Linked DNA regions of Homo sapiens: regions 1, 2, 4 and 5 are each linked to region 3. Evidence: fine-mapped expression QTL. A gene starts in region 3. Each other region holds a variant in brackets. All regions are shown on one strand. Distances are from middle to middle.

The links. PIP is the estimated chance that this variant, and not a neighbour inherited with it, causes the effect.
Region 1: its variant is the best candidate, but not a certain one, in a credible set for the expression of CNR1 in whole blood (TOPMed, PIP 0.52).
Region 2: its variant is the best candidate, but not a certain one, in a credible set for the expression of CNR1 in fibroblasts (GTEx, PIP 0.69).
Region 4: its variant is the best candidate, but not a certain one, in a credible set for the expression of CNR1 in lymphoblastoid cells (TwinsUK, PIP 0.83).
Region 5: its variant is the best candidate, but not a certain one, in a credible set for the expression of CNR1 in whole blood (INTERVAL, PIP 0.73).

Annotation. Positions count from the first base shown.
Region 1 is chr6:88,131,347-88,136,452 of GRCh38, reverse strand. No RefSeq gene overlaps it. Among named protein-coding and RNA genes, the nearest start is that of CNR1, 32 kb to the left of the region's middle. The variant T/C (reference allele first, on the strand shown) is at 2,782.
Region 2 is chr6:88,367,300-88,372,405 of GRCh38, reverse strand. The region is part of intron 2 of LOC105377885 (a long non-coding RNA gene); the gene reads left to right. Among named protein-coding and RNA genes, the nearest start is that of CNR1, 200 kb to the right of the region's middle. The variant T/C (reference allele first, on the strand shown) is at 3,066.
Region 3 is chr6:88,163,699-88,168,804 of GRCh38, reverse strand. CNR1 (cannabinoid receptor 1) reads left to right here and starts at 2,458. Exons shown (of 2, transcript NM_016083.6): 1 at 2,458-3,002. RefSeq lists silencers at 1,332-1,531, 1,602-2,041, 2,102-2,781.
Region 4 is chr6:88,113,886-88,118,991 of GRCh38, reverse strand. No RefSeq gene overlaps it. Among named protein-coding and RNA genes, the nearest start is that of CNR1, 50 kb to the left of the region's middle. The variant G/A (reference allele first, on the strand shown) is at 2,274.
Region 5 is chr6:88,453,283-88,458,388 of GRCh38, reverse strand. No RefSeq gene overlaps it. Among named protein-coding and RNA genes, the nearest start is that of CNR1, 290 kb to the right of the region's middle. The variant C/T (reference allele first, on the strand shown) is at 2,198.

The sequences.
Region 1 (5,106 bases), 32 kb after region 3:
GTTGAGACCCATAAGCCAATTTCTATATAAGTGAACTGTGCTGTGCATATATCCACCATGGTGAACCATCAAATTACTGAAGATCTAATGAAAGTAGGTGAGCACTTAAAAAGATAATTGCAACACAGTGCAATCAATGCTAAAATGGAGGAGGCTATGGGAAACTAGAAAGGGCACAAATACCTGATTTAGGAAGAAGAGGTGATGCTTGAATAGAGCACTAAAGACAAAGTAAGAGCTAGCTATGAAAAGAATAAAGGGAAAAATGGGGATAAAGGAAGCTCCAAGGAGATAAATTATGGTGAGTTGGGGGTAAGAGGGGAGAGATGTAAGACAGTGTGATATGTCCAGTGAATGACACATAGTCTCATGTGTATGGGACATGGTACGTGAAGGAGAGTAATGAGGATGAGGGCGGAGGGCCAGATAACCAAGGGTCATAGATGCTAAGGTGATTAATTGTTCTTGATGCACCTGCGTTGTGGTTTACAGAGGTCTGAGAAGATTCATAATATTAGTCAAAAAGGTCAAAGTTTAGATAGCTTTTTTCCTAGTTCTGCTAGTTCGGAGATTTTTTAAAAGCATTGCATGTATCTGTAAAAGTATCACTTCCTGCTTGCCCAGAAGAGAGTCCGGGGTGGGGGTGGGGACTCTATATCTTGTTTCTACATTAGCTGGCTGTGTATTTTCCCACTTGATGACATTACCATCATTGCTAGAAAGTGGATTATTCACTTGGAACAGAGGGACATCAATTAACTCCCCATACATAGCAGAGTCATCAGTCACAAAGTGTTCTTGGTCATTATTCACCTGGGCTGGGGCAAACCCTCTGATCTCAAGATGACAGGGACCATATTGAGCACTAGCCCTTGGGATTTCCAGCCCTCTGCCCTCCTGCCCCCTTTGTAAATAAGATTATTGCTGCTGCTACTGCTTGGTTTGCCTGAAGGGATACAGAAATCCTTCAGGGAACAAACAGATAAGGGCTAAGAGGAGAATCTTTTTAAACTGTCCAAAGCAACCCAACCCTACACCTGACCCAAGTGTACTTATTTCATTCATATTGAGTAACACAGACTGCTTTTCAATTAAGAGTTTGAGTTTATAAAGGAAGGAAAAAACAGAAGACATCTTTGGATTACACTGCAAGGAGGGGAGTAAAGCTTTAAAATATTCTGGCATTAACCCTTTTCCAAATCAATTGCACATTTCACAGCTTTTATAAAGATTTTACCATACACATTTCACAAAATTTTTTTGTGTAAATTTTGTGTCTTTTTAAGGGAGAGTAAGCTTTGCCATGTATTTTTGGACACATTATATTACCAGCACTTACAAGCCTAATAACAATTTTTCTGGTTTGTGCTTCATTAACAATCTCTGATTATTCTACAAAGGGACACAGACCCTTTAACCATTCGATTCAGCCTCTGATTGCTTGTCATGTTAAATCCCAATCTTTCTAACCTGGGTGGCTATGAGCAATTTGTCTTACCCAGTAATCCAGTGTGAATACTTTCAAGTGTTTGTACCCTCCCACTGATTGAAGAAAGCCTTCGAAAACATCCTCCAGTTCTTAAGACAGGGAAAACCCCTATGTATTTCATCATTATTTACCTAAATTAGATAGATCCAAATAGTCCTTGGTATGACCCAGAATAGGCCACACTCACTGCAAAATGCCACTATCTCCCAGGGGGCCTCTCGAGAGATATGAGTGTGATGGACACGTCATCGTTGCAGCAAATATGGTTCAACAAAAATCTTGGTGCAGTTGCCCCTCCCAGAGAGCCCTCCAAGAAGATGGGGCTCCATGTGAATTGATTTCCTCCAGAGCCTCATTTCTCACAGCCATTATGATGTGCAAGTGGAGGGAAAACAACAGAGTTCCTACATGAAGGTAGGACTGTTGGTAGTCTTTTCTTTAGTGATGATTCTGATCAGTCCCAAAGCATGAGAACTCTTTGTTCTAATCATGTTATGTCCAAGTGGAGGAAAATAGGAAAAGAAATACTGATTCTTAGAAACTGATTATGAAAGTAAATTCTTTAACAAGGTGGCCTAAGGAGATGCCTGAAGTAAAGAAGCTTCTTGAGGCTTTGTGTGCATGCTAGTAGACTTCCCTTGGTGCTTAGGAACCAGAAACAAACAATACTATGGTTAAAACGTGGTGTCCACCAATACAGTCAGCTTCCATGACTCTCCATTTCTAATTTTTCCTGCCCTGTCTTGTGGGATAGGTTACTAACTGATCACTTGCCTATAGAATTTTCATTTAGACCAGAAGAATCAGAATACACTCATTTTTGTTTATAAATGAACATATGCCTAAACAACCAAAAGAGCCTCCAGGTCTGCCTCTAAGGATGATTAGGCATGTGTGAGGGAAGTTGTCATTAACCAAAATAGGACTTCTCATCTCAGATGCAAAGATGAGAATGAATACCAAAGCCAAGGAAGAGCCATAAACCAAAAGACTTGGCAACAAGGCTCAATTCCATTGTTCTGGTTACTATCATCTCTGACTTTAAATAGTACAAAGCAATCTTAAAAGCAAATTCTTTCCTTCGTGTCCAGGGCTAGAATATTCCAAGTGTACCTAATGGATCTCAGGCAGTGAGCCAAGAGAAAGTCAAACAGTAGGCAAAAGCAGATTTACTATGTTTTAAACATTTTTTTAAAAAAATCTGGCTTATTTTTATGGCACTATATGCTTGTGCAGGAACTCTGAAGCCGTCTGCACAAATGACAGCAAAGACAGAGCAATCATCTGGAAAA[T/C]GGGAGCTAAAAACACAAGCTTTTGTTTAGGAGTAGAAGAGAAAAGATGAGGCATAAACAGCAGAAAAAGATGAAATTTATAAATGAAAATGAGCTTATTCTGATTCTTTGGATCTAAATGAAAATTCTGTAGGCAAGTGATTAAAGTATTTGCAAAGATACAAGATTTAGAAACTTAATATACATAAATATTTAGAAACAAATATACATAAATACAATAACAAATAGATTTAACATTAAACAAAGCAAAAACTTCTAAACCTGACTATATGAACTGCTCTCCTTGCTTTTCTCCCATATGCGGAGAGTGAGTGTTCAAGAGGCGTAGAAACCTAATTAGGTGTGGCCCATTGAAAACTTTATGTTCAATTTACAATAAGCATTTCTCAGCTTTGAAAGTGTTTATAATATTTCCCTGGGAGAATGAGTTCCTTCATCTACCAGATATTCAGTGAAAAGCATCTTGGCAGATTTAGCTATACAGGTGTTTTAAGACAACTTGATATATTAAAATTCAAATTCATAAAAAGCTAAATGGGGAGGGAATTATTTCTTCACATAAATACTTTGCACCTGCAAAAGAGCTCATTGCACAGTGAGCCTTGAGTTATCAACTCCTCTGGTCGATTAAAATGTAACTAAATGTTCATAAATCCATTTTACAAGAACTTTTTCTGAAACAGCTCTATTGTTCAAAGTGAGATGTTCCTACACTTTAAAACATTTTCACCTGTCTTGCCCTGTAATCCTACACAAGTGCTTCTTGCATATTTTTGTATTGTGCAACCCAGAATTCTTGGATAGGCATGACAACCTGAACATGCTCAGCACTTCAGGGCATAGGAGCCCCTCTGCAGATTTGAAATTGTGTTAGGGATATAGGCAAAACCTCAGCTATTCACAATAGCAGTGGATGGGAATTAAGTGCTTAACGAAATCCATAAATAATCCCTAGATCCCCGAATCCTTGATAGCCAAGTATGAAACATTCTGTTCTCATCAAAGATTTTGTCACTGATGTTAACAAGTGGGGGAGAAGTTTGATTAAACTCTGATGGCTTCTCTTGCTGACCTCTGTCTACAGACAGAAATAACAGGCAGGCAAGTGGTCAGAGAGCAGCACAAGGCCTGGGAACAGAGACACTCTGCAGACTGTGTAATTAGTTCCTAAATAACAAGAAGATCATAAACAAGGCAAAGAACGCTGAGCAGATTTTACTGCCATTCAGCAGTGTTTTGTCCATGTCTGTTGCATGCCCAGAAGACTAAGCACCTCAGCCTCCTATAGTGTGTTGCATCCTCTCCCAAGGCTCTCCAAAATGGCCATCATCACCAGCTACTTCCTCAGGCAATGGCTCCCTAAAGCTGCAGAGACTCAGTGAAGCTACTGTGCTGAAGCAGAAAGGATGCTAAGCCTGAGTTGAAAGCCTGACTTAGTAGCTCAGTTTGATGTTGGCTGTACTTCTTCCCTTACCCATTTATGAGGCCCCATTAAATCTTTCTCCTGGTTGCTTCAAAGGGAAAATGGCTGGCATTGTGAGCAGACAGGATCACTTCTTTGGCCACACCTTAAGTCTGTAAGGTACGGTATTAATGAAAGTTTGTTTTGAGATGGAATCTTGCTCTGTCACCCAGGCTGGAGTGCAGTGGCACGATCTCGGCTCACTGCAACCTCCGCCTCCCAAGTTCAAGCGATTCTCCTGCCTCAGCCTCTGAGTGGCTGGGATTACAGGCGTGTGCCACCACACTCAGCTAATTTTTATGTTTTTAGTAGAGACAGGGTTTCACCATGTTGGTCAGGCTGGTCTTGAACTCCTGACCTGGTGATCCACCCACCTCGGCCTCCCAAAGTGCTGAGATTACAGGCGTGAGCCACCACGCCTGGCCTAATGAAAGGTTTTAATTGCAGGATTTGGACAATGAGATAGCAGTGGAAGTAACGTTAGATGGGCTGTTTCTTCCCAGGAGCCCCCAGTAGGGCCCAACTCTATTATTGGATTTCACCCCAGTAGTTTGTTTGCATTCCTCCTTACCTTCCTCCAAGAGCACTGACAGCCAGAAGGGTTTGAGAGGAAAAGTGACAAACCTTTGCTATGTAGCTGAATTGCTGGGAGAATTCTTTTAAAAATATGATTCTGTCTTCTATGATCAAATTCAGTGCCACTTTGCTCTCTCCAAAGCCTCCTGGAGACTCAGTAGCAGTCAATCTATGTGCATAGAATTCATACATAATGTCAAACCCTGCAATGTATATTTTTTCCCAAAGGTTACATATATGCAAAGAATTAAAGGCACTGAAAGTTAAAAAAAAAAAAACAATAGTTG
Region 2 (5,106 bases), 200 kb before region 3:
TAAACTCTGTCCTAACCAACATGGCCTTTGGTTTTTCTTCCTTTTTCTTTCTGCCTTTATTCCTTAGTCTTGGTCAAAAATAAATCTCAACCCTATGCAGCGCAGCATCCCCTCCCTTTCCCCAGTTCTATCTCTTTCTACTCAATCTCCATTTGGCTTCAGAGGCTCAGGAACTGAACTCATAGGACTGAGTTTTCTTTAGCAAGGAGGACTGGATTGATAACCCTTTGGAGACCTTGAGACTTTGGCTGCCCCAAATTGAATATGAGCAGCAATGTGACTTGGTTCACAGGGCTGCTCAATCAGGCTCTCAAAATTGCCAGGCAATTTTGGATGGTTTTCAAGTCAGGTATTTTTTCATCATCCTCACTAACTTTATTATCTTCTCCATTTTCTTCAAAACTCTCAGCCCCCAGAACTCCTGTCTATCACCCTCATTCCCAGTCCCAGCACACTTTACTGCTTTTCTCTTTCTCATGCACAACAGACTTGGCCTCATATTTTATAGAGAAAATAAAAATCCTCATATTTCTGCCAATAAATTGCCAATCCTACCTGCATCTACTGTGTTTTCTTCCTTCTCCTACCAAAAGCTCATTCATCCCCATGTGCCCTTCTGAGCCTGTTTACTTCCCTCTCACTGGCCAATCCTTTCCAATCCTGCCTCAGTCCTCACCCAGAGCTGTGTTCTCAAGCATTAACCAGTCACTCCTGATGGCTGAACCCAGGGCAGTCTCTGCAGTCTTCTTATCTACACTCTGCAGTGCCGGAGCTGCTGACCCCTTCCCTCCTGAGCCACCCTCTCTCCAAGTGTCCTCTGCCCCTCAGACCACCCCCCCCGCTTTGTTTATTCAACATCTAAAGGAGTCTCTCATGCTTGATCATGACCTCAAGAGCAATGGGATGTAGAAAATGGGATACAAAATGAACCTTCACACTCTATATGTGTTTCTTGTCTGTGCTTTTAGTGTGCTGGCTTCCTTCTTTTTCAGACTAGATAGACAACATCGACTTTCTCTACCTTACTGAGAACCTGGTTGCCTTCAACCCTAGACTCATAGGCTAACAGTCCTAACTAGAGAATAAACAAGGATCTTCTCACTTCAGGCAAAGTTTTTAAAAGCCCAGAGAAGGCCCCTGGTGAGCCCCTGTTGGGGTCTGTGCCTTCTCTTCAGATGAGTGATGTGACAGGAGGAGAAGCTTAGCCATAGGAAATCATACAGACTTTGGCATCTGGAAATGCAGTGCTGTTTTAACAGGTACCAAAAGTTTATAAATGGCTTTGGAATTAAATAGTAGCAGAGGCTGGGAGAATTTTCAGGTGCACAACAGCAAAAAAAATCTAGATTGCTTTGAACAAAATATTGGTAGAAATATAAACATTGAAGACACCTCTAATGAAGGCTCAACTTTTTATTAGAAACTGGAGGAAAGGTGATCTTTGTTATGCAGTGACCAAAACTTAGCTGAATTGTGCCCTAGAGTTGTGTGGACAGCATCCCTTGTAAATGATGAACTTGGATATTTAGCTAAGGAGATTTCCAAGCAAAGCGGACCCAAAATGCCATATCAAGTGTACTTATAAGTGATATAATAAGATCTACTCATAGAAGAGGAGAAGGAAATGTGACCACTGAGGCAGAGATGGGAGTGATGCAGACACAAACCCAGGAATGCCAGCAGCCACTAGGAGCTGGGACAGCTCAGGAATGGATATTCCCCTAAACCTCCAGAGGAAACATGACCCTGAAGGCATCTTCCTTTCAGATTTCTGGCCTCCAGCATAGGAGAGAAGAAATTCCTGTTATTTTAAACAACCCAGTTTTGGGTCATTTGTTACAGCAGCCATGGACAATGAACACAGTAGGGGATGGCACAGCCTGGGCCATGTGCCATCCCAGACGCCAGCCAGCCGATGTGATGACCACTCTTCACCAAGCCATGTGCTTGGTGGCCAGAAGGAAGGATGCTGAAAATATAGCAATAACAACAGCAACAACAAAATAAAACAGAAGCATTTCTATTCTTCCCTTCACATCTTTTAGGTCTGTCTGAAGCAGTGCTTACTAAGCAGTGCTGACTCAGCAATAACTCCCCTTGGGCATTTCTGTTCTTCTCTCACTCTCCCCTCTGCAGTATTTGCCGCCGACTGCTGCTCCCTCCTTCCTCAATGCTCTCCTTCCTTGGCTCTGATGGCACCACACCCTCTGGCTTTCCCTCTGCTCTTCTCTCTTCTCCTTCCTTCTCAGTCTCCTCTGTATGTCACCCTCTGTTAACCAGCCCCTCGATTTTGGGGCCTTTCAAGTGTCTGTCTTGGACCTCCTTTTCCTTTCTCTCTTTCTCATTCTATAGGATCTTTCTGGAATATCCATCTCTTTCCAAGGGCTCAATACACATCGATGGGCTCCCAAATTTATACTGCCAGCTCAGATTTCTTTTTTGAGCTCCAGATCTATATTTACAACTGCTTACTTTATATTTTTGGATGTCTCATACTCATCAAACTTAGCATGTCCCCTCTGTACCCTCATCCTAATGGTCCCTCCTCCAGTATTCCTTGTCCTGGTGATGACTTCCCTCCTCCCTCTGTGGTTCAGGCCAGTGCCCTTGGAGTCATGTCCAACCCCATTTCACTCCTCACAATCGACTTCACTTTGTTTACAAGATCTAACTGCTCTCTCTCTGAAATAGATCCACCTGTAGTCACGTCTCTCCATGTTCACCCACTGCCATCATTCTAGGCCCTGCCATGGCCTTGTCTCACCCAGGACTTCAGCCCTGGCCTCCTGACTGTCTCCTCTGCTTCTACCCTGGCTCCACTCTAGTTTCTGTACAATAGCATGAGTGAGCCACTAAAAATGCAAAAACAGTCATGTCATTCACCTCCTTGATACTCATTCACGGTCCTCAGTCGAGTTTAACATAAACCCTCATTGGGGTCTATAAGGTCATGGATGAGCTGTATGATGGATGCCATCATGTGCTGTCAGAACAGCTTTCAGGAATGGAAGACTTATTCCCTCCACTGCTGGGAGTGTGGCCAGCTGCCAGCCCTCAGGTGACAG[T/C]CCCTTTGGGGATTGCCTTTCTTAAGGAGATGACACCCCCTTTCTAGGTGGCCTTCATCCAGTGACGAATGGATGATGGAGGAGAAAGGTATAGAAGGTAAGCCTTCTCACCTAAACTTGGTTATCGCCAACTTGTCAACTCTGAGAGACAATTTCTGTCAATCCTGCATCTCTACTCAACTTCTCCCTTTGTCCTGTCACACTTCCATCTCTTCCTTCCGTGGGTGTGGATCCCACACACTAATCTCTATCTCAGAGCCTGTTTTCCAGAAACACAACCTGTGGCAATCTATGAAGTGATAGTTGAGACTGAGGGAAGTAATAATCCCACTGTCTTTAAATGCTCTAATTATATCCATAATATTGTCATAACTGCAGTCTTTGGGGTTATGTTATAAGAAGGACATTGACAAAGTAAAGCATAATTGAGGAAAATTAGGATGTTGAAGAACTGAAAATAACATCACAAGCCAAAAATTTGACGACATGAGCTTGTTAACCTGTAGTAGTATGTATTAACTCAGTATGTATATAATCATTATCTTTAGATATTTGAAAGCCTGCCAAATAGAAGAAAATGTTAACTTGTGTGGCTCCAGGGACTAGAATTAGTAGCAATGAGTGAGTGCTCCTGAATCACAAGTTTAGGCTCAATATAAGGAAGAAGTTTTTAGTAGCCATATGGCATCCTTGTGAAATAGTGAGTTCATTTTACTAGACTTGTGTGATCTCACCTTGAGGGTAAAGTAGCAGAGATTCCTGAGCTTGCAGAAAGCATTGAGCAGATGGTTAACTTCTCCATGACAGCATTCTATGAGGATTTCTGCTGTAGGACAGGGTTTTGTAAAGTACCCGAGGAGGTTGATAGGTATAATCTGACCAACAGATTCCATGGTCAAGTAAATTTGTGAGAAATAAAAAAAAGGTAATGTTAGGCAAGTCTTTTTACTGCATGATTTCTTAGAGTATTAATATGTCAACCATTCATCATGGAAGTCCCTAGGGACCATCCAGGACTCTGTATTTTTCAGATCTTGAAATGATTAGTCAAAAGAACAGGACAAGTTTTCTGTGGAAACTACGTCAAGAAATTCTGCTTTGAAACATTATATTCCTCTGAGTCATTAGTGAGGAGAGGGTAATTCTTAACCAGAATAATGAAAATATAGATTGCCAAGTACTGGGAATTAGGGCTCCTAAGAATGTAAATACTGGCTAGAAAATTATGAATTTCTCCCTGTTTTACAGAAAGGGTACATTTTGTTACCCTTGCCCCTTCAGTACATGAATGTACCTGCTAACTCCATCCTTGGCAGTATTAGGATGGACAACAGATAAAAGCTAGAGGATTATCATTTTTATTTATATTATTTATTAGCAGCCACATTAAACCCTTTTCAGTTTTACTAACCATTTATACTTTGAGTTGTTCATAAAGTCCCAGGATAAAAAATCTTCCTAAATACATTTGCAGACAGAACACACAATTAGGGGAATACTTGACTACTGTAGTCAAAATTCAGATCTTCAGAGAGAAAACAACCCAGCAAATTTTACCAATTTTACATTGACCAGGACCATTTCTGCCTTGTTGTGCTATACAGACACCATTGTCAGTCCCAATTATCCAGCTGCCTAATCAACACCCATAATTAAATTCTCCACACTCACTCCCTTGTATTCAGCACTTCCAGTGACTGTGTACCCACTCCAGAAGAAAGAAAGAACCAGTACAGCTAGACTGTTGCTTATCCCCATCTCAAATCTGTGAACTCTTTAATAAAATGCCCATTCTAAAAGTCTGGTAGTTGGCTTGATGCTTTCAGTGGCATGTGAGGTGGTCAAAAAGCTCAGCCACAAAGTTCATGTAGGTTCTATGACCATGAAGGGTGTGTCTCTTCCTGTTTCTGGGCCACGGTGCTTTTTGACTGACAGGTGAACTGTTGCCCTTACTTGTAGCTTTAAATAAATTGAAGGGGCAGGAGAAGATGGGAAGAATTGTAGGATTAGCCCATGTTTTCCAGAAATTTTTCAGTTACTA
Region 3 (5,106 bases):
CAGATTGTTCCTCTTTATGAAAAAGCAAAAGCTGGTGTGGCTGAGTTGAGATACAAGATTTCCATGGAATACCTTTCACAGGTTGATGCTGACCACCACGAAGGTATAGATCAACATGTGGGAAAGTGCTCCTTATAGAAGGAGCACCACCAGGGTGTGTCAGTGTTGTTTAGCTGAGTGATGTTGAACAGCTCTGCCACTCCAACAGCTCACGCCCTCCAGCTACAGGGGAGGGTGGTAGCACCCAAGTGAAATCCTGTGGCCTGAAAGCATTCTAGGAGTCCAGCTCCCCCAGGTTTCTTGTGACTGAAGATGTCCTTATCACAGTCAGAGGAAGCGCTGCCTTGATCCTTTCTTTTAATTACTAGCAGTCATTTGAAACTGAGCTGCCAGGTGGAGGAGAGACTTTGAAGTTATTGTCATCTGGCCTCTTGGGAAATCAGAGTCTGCGAGGTCATAAGGAGAGAAAATTTTTGCAAATATTTCCTACTGCCAGGGGTGTGAGGTGAAGGGAAAATCTAACAACCACGACCCCTAAAAGAAAAAAGCAACAGATGTTGAAGCCTCCTCCCTTTGAATCTTGCGCTGGAGCTGTCTCTGCCATGGAGGTGGGCTAAAAATGCCTGTGAGTAGAGCCTTCCCCAAGCAGCAGGGTTAAGGCTCAGCACTAATCCCACATCTACTATCTATCTCCCAGTCATTCTTCCATCTATCGATGGGTCCATCAGAACTTTATTGATAACCTTTTCTAACCACCCACCTAGTAGGACTTAATCATTTCAGCGGTGGACTCTCTCTCTCAATGGAGTCAAATGGTCATTTGCTTGACGGAAATACTTCTAGTCTAAAGCAGTCTAGGGGGATTTTCAAAAACTGCACTAGTGCTCTGCGGGAAGCCTTTGTACGATTTGGCCTGACGTTTCCAAAACGGTTTTACAGCCTTCCCTCCTCCAGGACCTTGAACTCAACAATCTTCCTTCTTTCCCTGAGAGGCTCGCTTTCACAGATTCTCACCACGTAGTTCAAATATAGGGTCCAGATATAGTACGGTTGCTGTTGGGGTCTGATCAGGGGCGGGAAGACCTGGAGGTCGGTAAAACGGAGCGGTGCGGGATGATGTCTGGGAACACCGGCAAGGTGTCATAAAATGAACGCCAAGGCGGCCACAAGAGGACGGCCGGGAACCGAACCCAGCGCCCAGCACGGGGCCCTTGTGGCCGACGTGACGTGGCTCCGTCAGGTGGAAACCGTGCGATCCTCTCCCGATCCAACTCACGAGAGATAAAGATGTCTAAATAACCACGACCGCCGCCGCACACCCTGCAGGGCCCCGGGGGCGGAGGGGAGGGGAGCGCCTCCTCGGCAGAAGCGGCGGCCCAGGCTTGTTTGGAGGTTCGCAATTCACCATGATAAATGTAAAGACCAATTAAGGTTTGATCCGTGCACACAGGAGGCAGACGGCGGCTGATAGTGGAAACAATTAACGAGCATGTCCCCTAATTCCTGCCGCGGCTGCTGAGCACACCGCGGCTCCCCAGGCGCCCGCCGCTGCCGCCCCCGAGTCCCAGAGCCCCCAGTCCGGCCCTGGAGTGGGGCGTCCTCCTCCAGCGAAAAGGTGCGAGGAGCGGGGCCCCGGGTGGCCGGGGAGGGGGCGCGCCGGGCCGGGAGGCGCGGAGCCAGCCGCCTACGGAGCCCAACTGTTTGCATCGGGGACCGGCGGGCGGGGCGCGCCCGAGTGGTCTCGCCGGGAAAGGGCGGCGGGCGCTGGAGAAGGCGCCTGGCGCGAAGCTGGGCGGCGCCCCGAGGGCGGAGGACAGGTGGCCGCGCGACCGCAGCCAGGTAGCGAACGGCTCGGGGGCTGCGCAGCGCGGTCCCAAAGCTCAGCCCGGCCCCGGGCCCAGCTCGCTGCCGCCTGCCACGGGAGCGGCCTTGCGCGGAGGGAGGGGGCGCGAGACCGCACCCCCGGGCCCGGCGCGCCTCGGCCTCTGGGCTCCCGCTCCCCTTCCCCTTCCGGCTCAGCCCGCTGCCCCAGACGTGACCCCCGCGGAAGGTGTTGGCGATGCGCGCTGCCCGGGAGCGTGTGATTAATGGCCCCGAGGTCGTGGGCGGCGCATGCACCAGCCCCTTCTTGGCCTGGTCAGGGTGTGAGGGTATCCGGGAGCACAGCGAGGTCATGGCAGCGGGGGCCTCCGGGAGCGCGGCGGCGGAGGAGGAGGAGGAAGAGGAGAAGTAGGTGACGCGGGCCGAAGAGGCTTGTCCCCTCTGGCCCCAGGGCTGGCGCCGCGGCGGGTCCCCCGCCCCAAGCAAAGTTTGGGGCTACGGGCGCTGCGCTCAGGTCCCTCCCCGCGCAGTTCCCTCGGCGGGGTCTGTGCCGCCGCCGCTGCCAGGGCAGGACAAAGGCTCATTAACACGTGATGGGACCGCGCTTCATAAATGGGACTGGAGCGAGAGGGAGCCAGAGACAGCGCGAGCGGAGGGAGCGGCAGGGACTGCGCGAGCGGGACGAGGCGACGGGCGCCCGGGCTGGCGGAGACGGGCGGCCCCACGCCGGGCCAGGCGGGGCTCGCGGGAGGACCCAGTGAAGAGCCTGGGAAGGGGCGAGGCTCGCCGGCGGTCGGAGCAGCGGGGCGCCAGTCCCGGTCGCTGTCGCGGGCGGGCGCTGGAGACCGGGACGCCGGCGCTCGGACGGACTGACTTGCTGACCGCCCGCCGGAGGCACACCCCACTCCACCCCACCCCGCCTCGCCAGCAGCCCGGCGCCGGCGCCGCCTCCCGCACGCTACTCCCTCTGCCACCCCTTCCTTCTCCACTTCTTTTCCGCCTCCGCCTCTTCTTGTCTCCCGCGGCGCCAGCGCCTTCCCTTGGCCCGGGCGGGGGCCTCGGCTCCCTGCAGAGCTCTCCGTAGTCAGTGGGGGATATTTCGTTCTAGCGGACAACCAGCCCCTGAGCTGGGCGAGAGGTGCCAAGGGAGCTTCTGTCCCGAGGACCAGGGGATGCGAAGGGTAAGACCTGGCAGAGTTGCGTTTGGAAATACTTTTTCCGCCTCCCGCCCCCTCGGGTACGACCAGTGTGGTCCCCAAGTGTCCTTCGTGGAGTTCTTATTCCGTGTGAGCGAATCGTGCGTCGGTGTTTACTTAGCTGTATGGCCCCAGCCTGTTAACTGTGATCTGTTCTACTTCTGGAGATTTCTACCATTTACTATTTATTGAATGTGTGTGCACCTGGCTCTGTATGCACTGATGTCTGTTTGTAGAAAATGGGTAATTGTGCATGTTTGAAAAACGGGCGCTTGAGTTGGTGCTGAATGCCTATAAACCATGTTAGCAGCTAAGTCTTCCCAGGGAAATACATCGATCTCTGCTGCAAGCCTAGAAACTGACTAATGTAAAATAGTAAATGTCATATAAAGAGATGTATGTCAAATAATAAACTTTTGATAAAAAGCTACAGGAACCACTTCTCTTTGAGGAAAAACAAATGTCCATGTAACTAATACCTAAAATTGAATGTTGATGGAACCGTTTAACTCAGAACTAGCTGTTAGATGACTAAAGTTAATGTTGCATTTTTAAAAGACATTTCTTGTTAAGGCTTACAAATCATAAACGGATCACCTCTCAAATAAAAATATGTTTGCTGTAATAGACATGAGAAACTGTCATTTGGTCATTTGGAAGTTTAAAAGCAACATGCATGTTTCTGATTTTAATAGATTGTCTCTCAGATATTTAAAATTGAACAGATAAAAAAACAAAAGAAATGTTTAGTAACGTATTAATCATTTTGCCTCCCATCTTTTTTTATTTTCCTCCAAATAAGTGCTATTCTTGCCTTTGTTGTTGATTTCCTGATATAGTAAGCCTCCTCGGGCATGTAATCCAATAAGAGATTAGAACAGATTTACTGGTTTTAAAGGTGTTGAAAGATATCTCTGTGGGTCCCATAACTTCTCCTCATTTTTATTACCAAGTTAATATCTTTTGAACAATGGGGGAAATGCAATTTCTTAGAGGAAGCTTAGCGGACACTGAGTATTAGTGGGGTCACCACTGACATCAATCTATTTTGCAGAATATTGAGAAGCTCAGAGCAACCAACCTTTAAGGTTCCCATAGGACTTTATGTGATTTAAAGTGTTGCTTTTCTAATCCTACCCTACTGACAGTTTGCAAGGGAAGATACACTAATTGATTTTTCTCTGTCCTTTTTTTCCCTGGTACTCCTCCCCCTCCCCCGCTCTCTAACTCAGTTAAGAGCAATTTTATAAAAATAAAAGGCCATTTATAGTTTCTTAAGTGAGACAAATTACTTTCAGATTATATCCATACATGAGCAGAAGACATGCACCTCCAGAATTTTAAACATTGCATACTACAGGCACTTATTTGTAGGCACAATGGCAGTTACCATAGTGGGGCAAGAGACTTGATGTGGGACATGGTTTTAAAAAACTAATCCATTTTAGCTTATCAGGAGAACTTACTGTAAACCGACTCTTTTTGTTTCAAAGATGTCTCCCACTCCAGGCGAGGAGCGCTCTTGGCTGAGGTATGTATCAAGTGTCTGATGGGGAGAGGTCTCATTGTGTTTCTCAGTGTCCATGGGGGTACAATGATGCCACAAGGTGGAAATACCCAATTCTGGCCTTTCACAAATAAAATTACTGTGCTTGCATACTCGTTGTTAGGAAAGCAAATTAGATATTCATGCCCCTGAATTTTAATAACATTAATATATGTATGTAAAAAGAATGTTATGACTAGAACCTTAAATAAGCCATAAGTGATTATTATTTAGTGTGTAAAGTTTTAAATTCTGATGAACACCAGGTCTCACATTGAAGTAGTGCTTGGCTTTGTTTGTTATCCACTGTTTTCTGTCTTTTTCTGTTACCCATTTCCCAGTGGACCATGTTCCTCTCTGTCTTGCCTGTGAGATTGCTCTTCTCTAATAAGCCTAGCTGCAGGATCAGTGTGTTCTTTTTGGCATTTCAAAATGGTAAAATAGTGAAATTGTTAAATGTTACCAAGATGAAACTGCTGGGAATGAAATTCTCAAAAAGAACCACTGTATTTGTGGCATATTTCAGCCTCTTCCAAAAGAAAA
Region 4 (5,106 bases), 50 kb after region 3:
AGGTGCTAAAAAGAAAGGTCATGAATTAATCTAGTATTTTGAAAATACACATCAAGTACTAGATACATTAACAAATAATAGCACCTAAGAAAAACAATAAAGACCCTTGACCAACAGAACGAGCCAGCTAAAATAATATTGTCATTGTTGTTGCGTGTGTATATGTATGTTTAAAAGAGAAAGATGTGGTTCAGTTCTTGTCACATTTGTTTTCCAGTATAGTCTCAGCTTTCCTTTACAATGGACCCTTAAGTAAGAGATGACAGCTGACATTCAATCAGTTTTATACTCATTGGAAGACCTTTCCCCTTTCCTTTCACTTCATTTTGCATATTTATTTGCATATATCTTCATAAGCAATGAATAGGTGCCTTTTCCTTAGACCCAGTTATTTTCTTTTTTGTAAGACAGGTATTGCTCTGTTGCCCAGACTGGAGCACATTGACACAATCATGGCTCACTGCAGCCTTGACCTTCAGAGCTCAAGCTATCTTCCCACCTCAGCCTCCTAAGTAGCCGCAAGTACAGGCACACACCACCATGCACAGCTAATTTTTTTTTTTTTTTTTTTTTGTAGAGACAGGGTTTTGCCACATTGCCCAGGCTGGTCTCGAACTCCTGAGCTAAAGAAATCCGCCTGCCATGGCTTCCCAAAGTGCTGGGATTACAATTGTCAACCACTGTGCCCAACCAATGACCCAGTATTATTTTTATCTCTGTTTATTCTCTATCATTGAATCCCTTTCTTTTAAAGGGCTGATTCTTTATTTCTCCCACAGCTCACCTCTTGGTGGTTGCTTCTTCTAGGCATCATTTTAGTCACTGTCAGAAGATTTCTTTTCGGCTGTGTTGAACATTTGAACTCAGGCTTCAGGGCCAAAGGTTTTTGGATATTAATTTTAGTATCTCTACCATTGAATTATTGGGTTGTGCCATCCCCCAATCATCTGAGGATAAATTACTTGAGATAGAAGAGGGAGAGACAAAGTTCAGATTAGGAATGCTGAGAGAAGAAAAACAGAGGTCTAAGACCGGGGAGAAAAATGTGTTGGAGTGGAGGTCACCAAATGACCTAAGAGACTCAAAAGAGATTCAGTGGAGGTGAACAGGATGGTGGAAAGTTTCTGCTGATGAGAGTAGCCTATTGCATCCTCCACCTCGATAATACACACCAAGGAGCCAGTCCAACCCCTTTGACTACATGGGGTTCCAGGACCTACAAATATCAGTACTGTATTTGGTTTGGAAGGAAGAAGCAAACATCACCAGGGAAGCAGGACTGACTGCATAACTTGTGGGTCCTGGTGCAAAATGAAAACGCAGGGATTCCTGTTTAAAAAAGTATTAAGAATTTCAAGATCACAACAACAGAGCATTACATCAAGCTTGGGGCCCTTCTAAGCGCAGGCCCTGTGAGACTGCACAGGTTGCAGGACCATGAAGATGGGCTTGCTGGGAAGTTCCTATGCAAACAGAGCGATCTGTCTTTGCTGAAAAGTCTTTTATTTCACAACTAATAATTGAGTTTTGCCTGTGAGCCCAATAAGGGAGAATACACGTGATGATGATAGAAACTCTGTTGAAAAACTTGAGGTAAAATATTAATTTTACAAGCAACTGTCAGAACACAAAAAAAATCATGTGATAAAGTTGTACAAGCAGTTAATAATCTTCCTAGCAGCAGAAAGCTATCATCTCTGTCTGTGTGTGTGTTTGGAGATAACTCCGAATTGAAAGATATCTCCCTTGAGGACACTGAGTTAAATTCCAGGGTAGAAAGAAAGAAAAAAAGGCAAGCATAATTTTGAGAGATTAAATGAAAAAGAGGAGTTGCTAGAGAAATGGGCAAGAAACGGTGTGTATGTCCTGATATGTGCATGTGAGTTACGTGAGAGAGGGAACAAGAAAAAAGAGAATTATAAAAAATGCAGCTATGTAAGCCAATGTAAAATTAGTATAGGTTAAGGAATCAAAACAAATGTTTAACTGCAAATGAAATTCTTAGGAAGAAAAATGTTTGATCTGTTGAGTGTATAGAAGCAGGGGTTGTGGGAAGGATGGGCTGGAAAGACTCTGATTAATTAGCTTGGAAATCCTCAAATTAGTAACTAATGAAAAACAAATTTGCTTTTTTCTCTCCTCATTAATTTGTATTATGTGAAGGAAATTACTTTGACAATAAACAGTTAAGAACTGAACATTTTGTTAAAACAGAGGATACAACTGTATTATCAAATAAGTACACAGCAGTTCCTCTCAATTAGTTACTGTTT[G/A]TAAAATGCAGTGAGACTCCTGGATGCAGAGTGCTCTGTAACTGTATATTATTATAGTTCTGATTGTGGTTAAAATGACCACGAATGAAAATAATACACATGCTACACAGGAATATGTGTATGGGAAAGCCACCGTGTACATTTAAAAAGGTGATAAAGATGATTGTTTCCTGGCTGAAAGTCTCCCCTGAGAGAATGACATATGAACATGCTAGTTCTGCACAATGCATCCCTATGGGCTGTGCTCTGGGGTCAGTTAGGACCGATAGAGGTCAGAGAGAACTGGTTAACAGCTATTCTTCACAGTGTTACCTCCTGCTCAGCACCTGAATGAAACTGACAGGGATTCTGATAAATGCACCAGGAGGACAAGAAATCTGGTTAGCATCACTGGGCTGCTGGTCACCTGGGGAGGCCAGAAAGGTAAACTACTGTAGACCCCTAGAATCTAGGCTTTGAAAAGCCCTGAAAAGAATCTGGAGTCTCCCTGGAAGGGCTCTAAGTATATCTCTAATAATAAAACACCAAGAGGATCAGGATGAGTGGGGTGCAGAAAAAAGATGCAGGCAGATGGGAGAGTCTGCAGGAGCAAGTGGACACAAAGGTAATTTTGCCTTCAAAGAAAGGTATAATTTTGGAATTGTGCTCTCTCACTTTCTCGTGTGCGCTCTCTTTCTCTCTCGGTCTCGGTCTCTCTCTCTCTTGCTCTCTCTCTCTCTGTGTATGTGTGTGTATAGTGTGTGTAGTATGAACTGTAGGTTTTGGCAAGAACTTGCCTTCTTTGGAAACTAGGCCTAAAGACAACATGAGGAGATTTGGCCTATTGGTTTCATGGGGATAAAAGGAAACAAACAAATGAAAGCATAAAGTTGAACATAGGCAGAAGTAAGCTCGAGGCATTTGTAGAGCAAGGAGTTCAGCAGTTGTCAGCAGTCAAGGCAAGGAACCGATAATCAGGACTTTTAAAAGGCCAAACAATTTTATGCCAATAGCTGCAGGATTACAAGGCAACGTAAAATTATTGACTCACATGGTTGTCACCCAAACCCTTTTCCTTTGCATTTGGGTAAAAGGACTCCTTTTGAACTGGCCTGCGCCCATGCTGTTTTGCATTAGGAAACATGGTTGCAATGATCAAGGATGGTTTCATTTTGGATTAACACTGGCAGGGCTCTGAGCACAACAGTTGACACTGATGGGGCTTTTATCCACAACAGGTAGCTAAGTGAGCAGGCTGACTGCTCGCAGGTGGCCATTCCCCAGGGATCTGCACCTCCTTGTGGGCCAGCCTTGGGGTGTTCTCTAGTCAAAACAAGAAACATAAATGTATCCCTGCTGCAATCTAATGCTCAAGATGAAAATGTAAAGGAGGAGGCTATGAAAAATGAAGCTGAGATTGGGAAGTCAGGTAAAAAACTGATGGAAAGAAAACTAAAAGATTGATATGGGCTGTACAACCAGTTGCTCTCTAGATCTCTTCTACTCTGAGGTTTCATCATTCCATAATTTCCTGAGGTATATAGAGAAAAATATGCAAGTGTTTAAAAAGCAAAAAAATATAAGAAAAGTCAGAAATCTCTTTATTGATAACCCCACTGAAACAGGCTGGCTGGCTTCCTGTTGTGATCTGGTCTAGAGGAGAAGAACAAAAGCCCCTTACCGAAGCTCTAGCTTACCTAACTTTCAGCCAATCAGCAACAAAAGACCCTAGGAACTGTAAAACACGAGTTCCTGCTTCAGAAGTGTAGGGACTTTCCTGAAGCCCCACACCCATACTTAGGACTCAAACTCAATCTATAAAGACATTTTCAAGATAGGGAGGATTTGTACATGTAAGAGGAAGAAAATGGAGCTAGGAAGAGAAAGGGTGGTGGGTCACTCAAGCAGAAGGCAGTCAGCCAGAGCATGAAGGAATATACGGCGCTTTGAAAATAAGGGTCTGAATCCTCTGGGTCAACAGAATATGGAAAGAGCATGAGTGGAGAGATAGTGGACTGAATGTTTGTGTACCCCCCAAGTTTATATGTTGAAACTCTAATGTTCAGTGTAATGATATTTAGAGATGGTGCATTTGGGAGGGAGGGAGGTCATGAAGGTGGATCCCTTATGATGGGGTTAGTGCTGTTATAATAAGAGACATTAGAGAACCTGCTTTCTCTCTTTCTCTTTCCGCCATGTGAGCTCACAATGAGAAGATGGCCATCTATATTCCGGAAAGAGGACCTTCACCAGAACCTGACCATTCTGGACCCCTGATCTTAGACTTTCCAGCCTCCAGAACTATGAGAAATAATTTCCTGTTGTTTAAGCCATCCAGTCTTTGGCATTTTTGTTACAGCAGCCTGAGCAAACTAAGACAGATAGGTACTGCAGATCTGGCCTGTTTAGCCAATTATGACTGGACTTACACAAATTACACACTCTGGGAAAAAGAACTTCTACTACAGACATACATACATTAATTCATTAATTCATTCTCACTCTCTCTCACACACACACACATATACACACCCCACCCCCATATACATATATCACACAAAGAGACCTGCTCCCACCAAAACTTTTATTTTTTATTTTGTTCTTTTTTATTTATTTTATTTTATTTTTTTTTGAGATGGAGTCTTGCTCTGTTGCCCAGGCTAGAGTGCAGAGGCGCGATCTCGGCTTACTGCAAGCTCCGCCTCCCGGGTTCATGCCATTCTCCTGCCTCAGCCTCCCAAGTAGCTGGGACTACAGGCACCCACCACCATGCCCAGCTAATTTTTTGGATTGTTAGTAGAGACGGGGTTTCACTGTGTTAGCCAGGACGGTCTCGATCTCCTGACCTCGTGAT
Region 5 (5,106 bases), 290 kb before region 3:
CATGTATCTTGGTTATTCTTTGAATTTCCAGTTGAACATGCAATCCATTTGCCCTGTATGATTAGGTGTTATGGTAGCCAGCAGTGCATTTTTCTCCATTTGTTTTGCAGTATTCTGTTGGTTTTCACTACAGCTTGTTTACCCACTGAAGCATTTGAATATTGCTTATGCCAAGTAGTAAATTGGTTCTGCTCAATGGTATTCTGATTTGTCTTAGTTGAGGCTCTTTAGAATTCAAAGAAAAAGCCATCCAAGCTACCCAGGAAGGGGCTGTTATATGTGAATGTGAGGTCATTGCATGGATATGTATAGATTCAGAGACAAAAGTGAAAAACTAATGCTTTCCCTATATCTGGGGCTACACAATCTCTCTCTTTGCTTTTCTCTCATCTGTGTATTCTTGCCCTTTTCATTAGCTTCTCTTACTCATCTTTCCCATGACCCATTAAGCCCACAGCTCCAATTCTATATTATGACTTCTGCTTCACTACAGTTTCCATTGCTAAATTCAAACTCTTCTGAAAATTGGATTGACCTACTCTCTCAATAGTGATGTTCCCTTTGGGATGCTCCATCACCCAGGCTGGAGTGCAATGGCGCGATCTCGGCTCACTGCAATCTCCACCTCCCAGGTTCAAGCGATTCTCCTTCCTCAGCCTCCTGAGTAGCTGGGACTACACGTGTGTACCACCACACTTGGCTAATGTTTTGTATTTTTGGTACAGTTGTGGTTTCACCATGTTGACCAGGCTGATCTCAAACTCCTGACTTTAGGTGACCTGCCTGCCTCGGTCTCCCAAAGTGTTGGGATTACAGGCGTGAGCCATGGTGCCCGGCCCTAGGATGCTCTTTCAAGACCCAGGGATAGGACAGTTTCTCTAGAAGAGGCCCTAGGAAGCATAGGCCATGAAACCCAGAAAGTTATGGACGTCTTTCCCATCATACTCTCAAGCCTCTCTATTGTCTCACATTTAAGTCTTCAAGCGGCCTTGGAAATAGGAGCAATTGTATCACATGCCTGTACTCCTGAATACACACCAAGATACCCTTTGAGTTACAGTTTTTCAATTCTGCAGAAACTATAAAATTAAAGCAGTTTCTGAAAGTTCCTAGATCAGAGGCCATCAATCTGTATGTCCTCTATTGCAAAACACCAGTACCAGTATCTGAGTTTTCTTTCTTGACCACTTTTGGGGGCCAAATATTCTAACCATCAATGACTGACTGTGCAATATAGAAAGGAGGTCAGGGTCTGGACGTGACTGTTCCACCACAAACTGGAACTCTAGTTCCTCTAATGTAAATTTAGTTAAGTCCTCTTGTTTAAGCAATAGGTGATTGGAATTGTTTCTTTTGCTCTCAGCAAAGGTATACCAAGTAAAATTGAACCCATGAGGCTGGACTGGAGAACACAGGTCAGATACCAAGACTAAAAACCAGACCCTTAATAACATGGCCAGGAGATAGGAGAGAACACTGCTGTGGGGAAGCCATGAAGGGATTTAGTCCTTAATATACATGCTTCTATCATGCTACACTGTAGTGCATGTACAAATCTATCTTCCTAAAAGAAGCTTAAGATTCTTGAGGGCACAGATGATATACTATTGTCTGTGGGTCCCAGGACTCAATGTGGTACCTGGCATATAGTAGGTACACAACAGTATTTGCTAATTGAATGAATGGATTGTGTAAGGAAGCTACTCTGCTGACATCAGCAAGGGCTTCCTCAAGCAGGAGCCAGCTTTTCTCCTTGTACCTTCCTGTGTGTGTAGAATATTGAGTGGATTAATCATCCTAATTAAAATTTAAATATATTTTCTAATCTTAGGCAATTTCAGGAAGTGTTTTTTCATTGTCAGCCTTCAAAAGAACTGTTTTCATTTTACATCTTCTAGTTACATCATTTTATTATGAGTTAATGGAATATATCTTCCTGAGTGCTTAGACCTATAACATTTTGAAATTATTCTTTGCTATGTTTGCCATGCTTAAACATTTCCATGCCATTTACTACCACACGTCATCTTATAATTTTTTCTGCTTCTTTCTGATCAAAGGCACCTGTCTGCACAGTGGTATCTACAGCAAAGCACTGATCTTCTGGTGCCCCCAGGTAGGTACTCTCTCCCTGTCCCCAAATGCTATATTTTATATAATATCTTTGCCTTCGAAAACCTATTGCCAATTTTCTTTT[C/T]ACAAAAATAAAACACGTGTATTGTAGACTTTTTAGGGAAAAAGATAAGCAGAAATAACATGCTAATTAGCCACAGTTCCCATCACCCAGAGATAATCCCTGTTTTTTACCAGGCTTTTCCCTGTGTTCATAAGAATGTTATTTTGAACAAAAACAGTGTAACATTTTTGAAAACAGATATCCCAAAATAGTAATGGCCCTATTCAAACTCAGTAAACCTGCTAAATTTGGTGAGCAACCTGCCTCTCTAAGCTTAATACAAGCCCTCTGTGACAGTTGGATAAACAATTCACCTGAATTTTACTCTTATGATTTAAGTTGCATTTTGCCACATTAAAACATTATAGCACTCTTTGGTCTGTAGTTTATTTTTGGATTTATTTAGCACAAATGAAGCTACTAATTGGCAGTCTTTCAACTCTCTGGGTATGGGTAATAATAAAGACATCATAAAGGGGGTGGTGCGGGCAGATCAGATGCCCTCCTCGGTCTTTTTGATGGGAACAAGTGAAATAATTTTTAAAAAAATCTTTCAGAATTCATTGTTGAACTGGTACAAAAGTAAGAACTTCTCAGAGGTGGGAGCTAAAGTCAAAGCAGAACCTTGGGTGGCAGGAGCACTGAGGCTGGCTTTTGTACTGAGACCTCGTGCTTCAGCTTTGGCAGCAGCACAGACACAGGGAAGGAGAGCCAATGCCAGCTAAAGCCAGGAGAGTCTCAAGAGGCGACCTCCAAATCAGCCAGGACTTTGTGCACACTTAGTGCAATGGAAAATGTGAAATGAAGGCCATCCCATGGAAGGGGACAGCCAGGTGATTTACCTGACTTGAATTTGGTTTTGAAAATGTGAAAGTACAATGTCTAATATCTTCTCTGATAATTAATAATCATAAACCAGCCCACATTTGGACTTGAAGGCAAGAAAGAGGTAGGGAGGAGAACAGAGAATGTAAATACAATTGGGAAAAGAATAATCAGATTGTGAAAGCAAATTAAAATACAAGCATATGTTTCAGAGTTTTCTTCAACTAGTATGTTTCCAGTAGAATACTTCTTTTCAATAACCAAATATCATGGAACATATCTCTGAATATAAATTTTTATCAGCCAATGGTTATGTAGAAGTGGTGTCTAATTACATTCCAAATACTCATAGCATTTTTAACAAAATGATGTGCTGGAAAGGTATCAGGTTACATTCCAAATACAATGGATAAGTCATCAGAATCTCATGAAGATTTTCTGAAAAGCATTCAGAGTTCCAGCAAAAAGGAGATGCTGGCCCTAAGCGAGACAACACAGCTCACACTCCTTGGGAACTGGCCTTTGCCACTGTAATACTTGTCCTGAATGCATTTTCGAAGTGCCTTTGTATTTAGCCTCTATTTTTGACTAGTGATGAATGAGTCACATGTACACAGGCACACACACACACACAATTTTAAAAAGTATTGAAGAAAAGTGTGAAGAAAGAAGAAAACAAATGCAAATAATGGGATTTTAAACAAAGCTACATTTTACAAATTTTTTTCCCTTAAATGTTGGTCACCTCCTTTGACAATTTTTCATGGCCCTTTTGTTCAGGTGCATTTTCAGCAGTGACAAATGATGGAGAGTTTCCATTAGTTTCTGAGTTGGATGGTTTGTTTGAAATTACTCTTTATCATCCCACTCATCCACATGAGCACTTTCCACAACCAGTGACAATTACTGTCAGCTCTCCTTCTCTCTCAGTTTTTTCAAGTATCAAGTTTTCTCCTCACTCAGTGAGTGACAGTTTATTACAGGTAATTGTCTTGTTTTTATTAAAAAATTTCACTGTACTTTTTCTGACAAAATTTATTTATTGCTGTTGTTATTTGCTTTGCCATATTGTAAACATAATGTTCACAGTATGCATGCAGTTTTACATGTTTGGTAATCAGAGAACAATGTTGTATTCAAATAACATTTTTTATTTCAATAGCTGTGGAGTTGCAAGTGGTTTTTGGTTACATAGATTGATTATATAGTGGTGAATTCTGAGATTTTAGTGCACCCATCGCCTGAGTAGTGTATGTTGTACCCAATATGCAGATTTATATCCCTCACCCCATCCCATCTTCCCTTTCTGAGTCTCCAAAGTCCATTATGTCTGCATGCCTTTATGTACCTATAGCTTAGCCTCCACTTATTAGTGAGAACTTGCAGAATTTGGTTTTCCATTCCTGAGTTATTTCACTTAGAATAATGGCCTTCAGGTCTATCCAAGTTTTTTATGGCTGAGTACTATTCTATGGTGTGTGTGTGTGTATATATACATATATAGCTCACATTTTCATTATCCACTCATTGGTTGATGGGCATTTAGGTTGGTTCCATATCTTTGCAATTGTGAATTGTGCTGTGATAAACATGCACGTGCTGATATAAAGACTTCTTTCCCTTTGGGTAGATATCCAGTAGTGGTGTTGCTGGATCGAATGGTAGATCTATTTTTAGTTCTTTAAGAAATCTCCATACTGTTTTCTATAGAGGTTCTACTAATTTACATTCCCACCAGCAATGTATAAGCATTCCTTTTTCACCACATCTACACTAACATCTATTGTTTTTAGGCTTTATTAATAATTATGGCCATTATTGCAGGGGTAAGGTGGCATCTCATTGTGGTTTTGACTTGGATTTCCCTGATTAGTGATGTTGAGCATTTTTTCATAGGTTAGTTTTGGCCATTTGTATATCTTCTTTTGAGAAATATCTATTCATGTAACTTGTTCACTTTTTGATGGAATTATTTGTTTTAGAAAACAATGTTTTTACTTAAGAAAACTAGTTGAGAGATAGGGTTAACATATAATGCATTACATGTTATACATTTTCTTATATAGAATAACAGAAAACAGACTCCTAGTTAGTGTTTTTAGGCA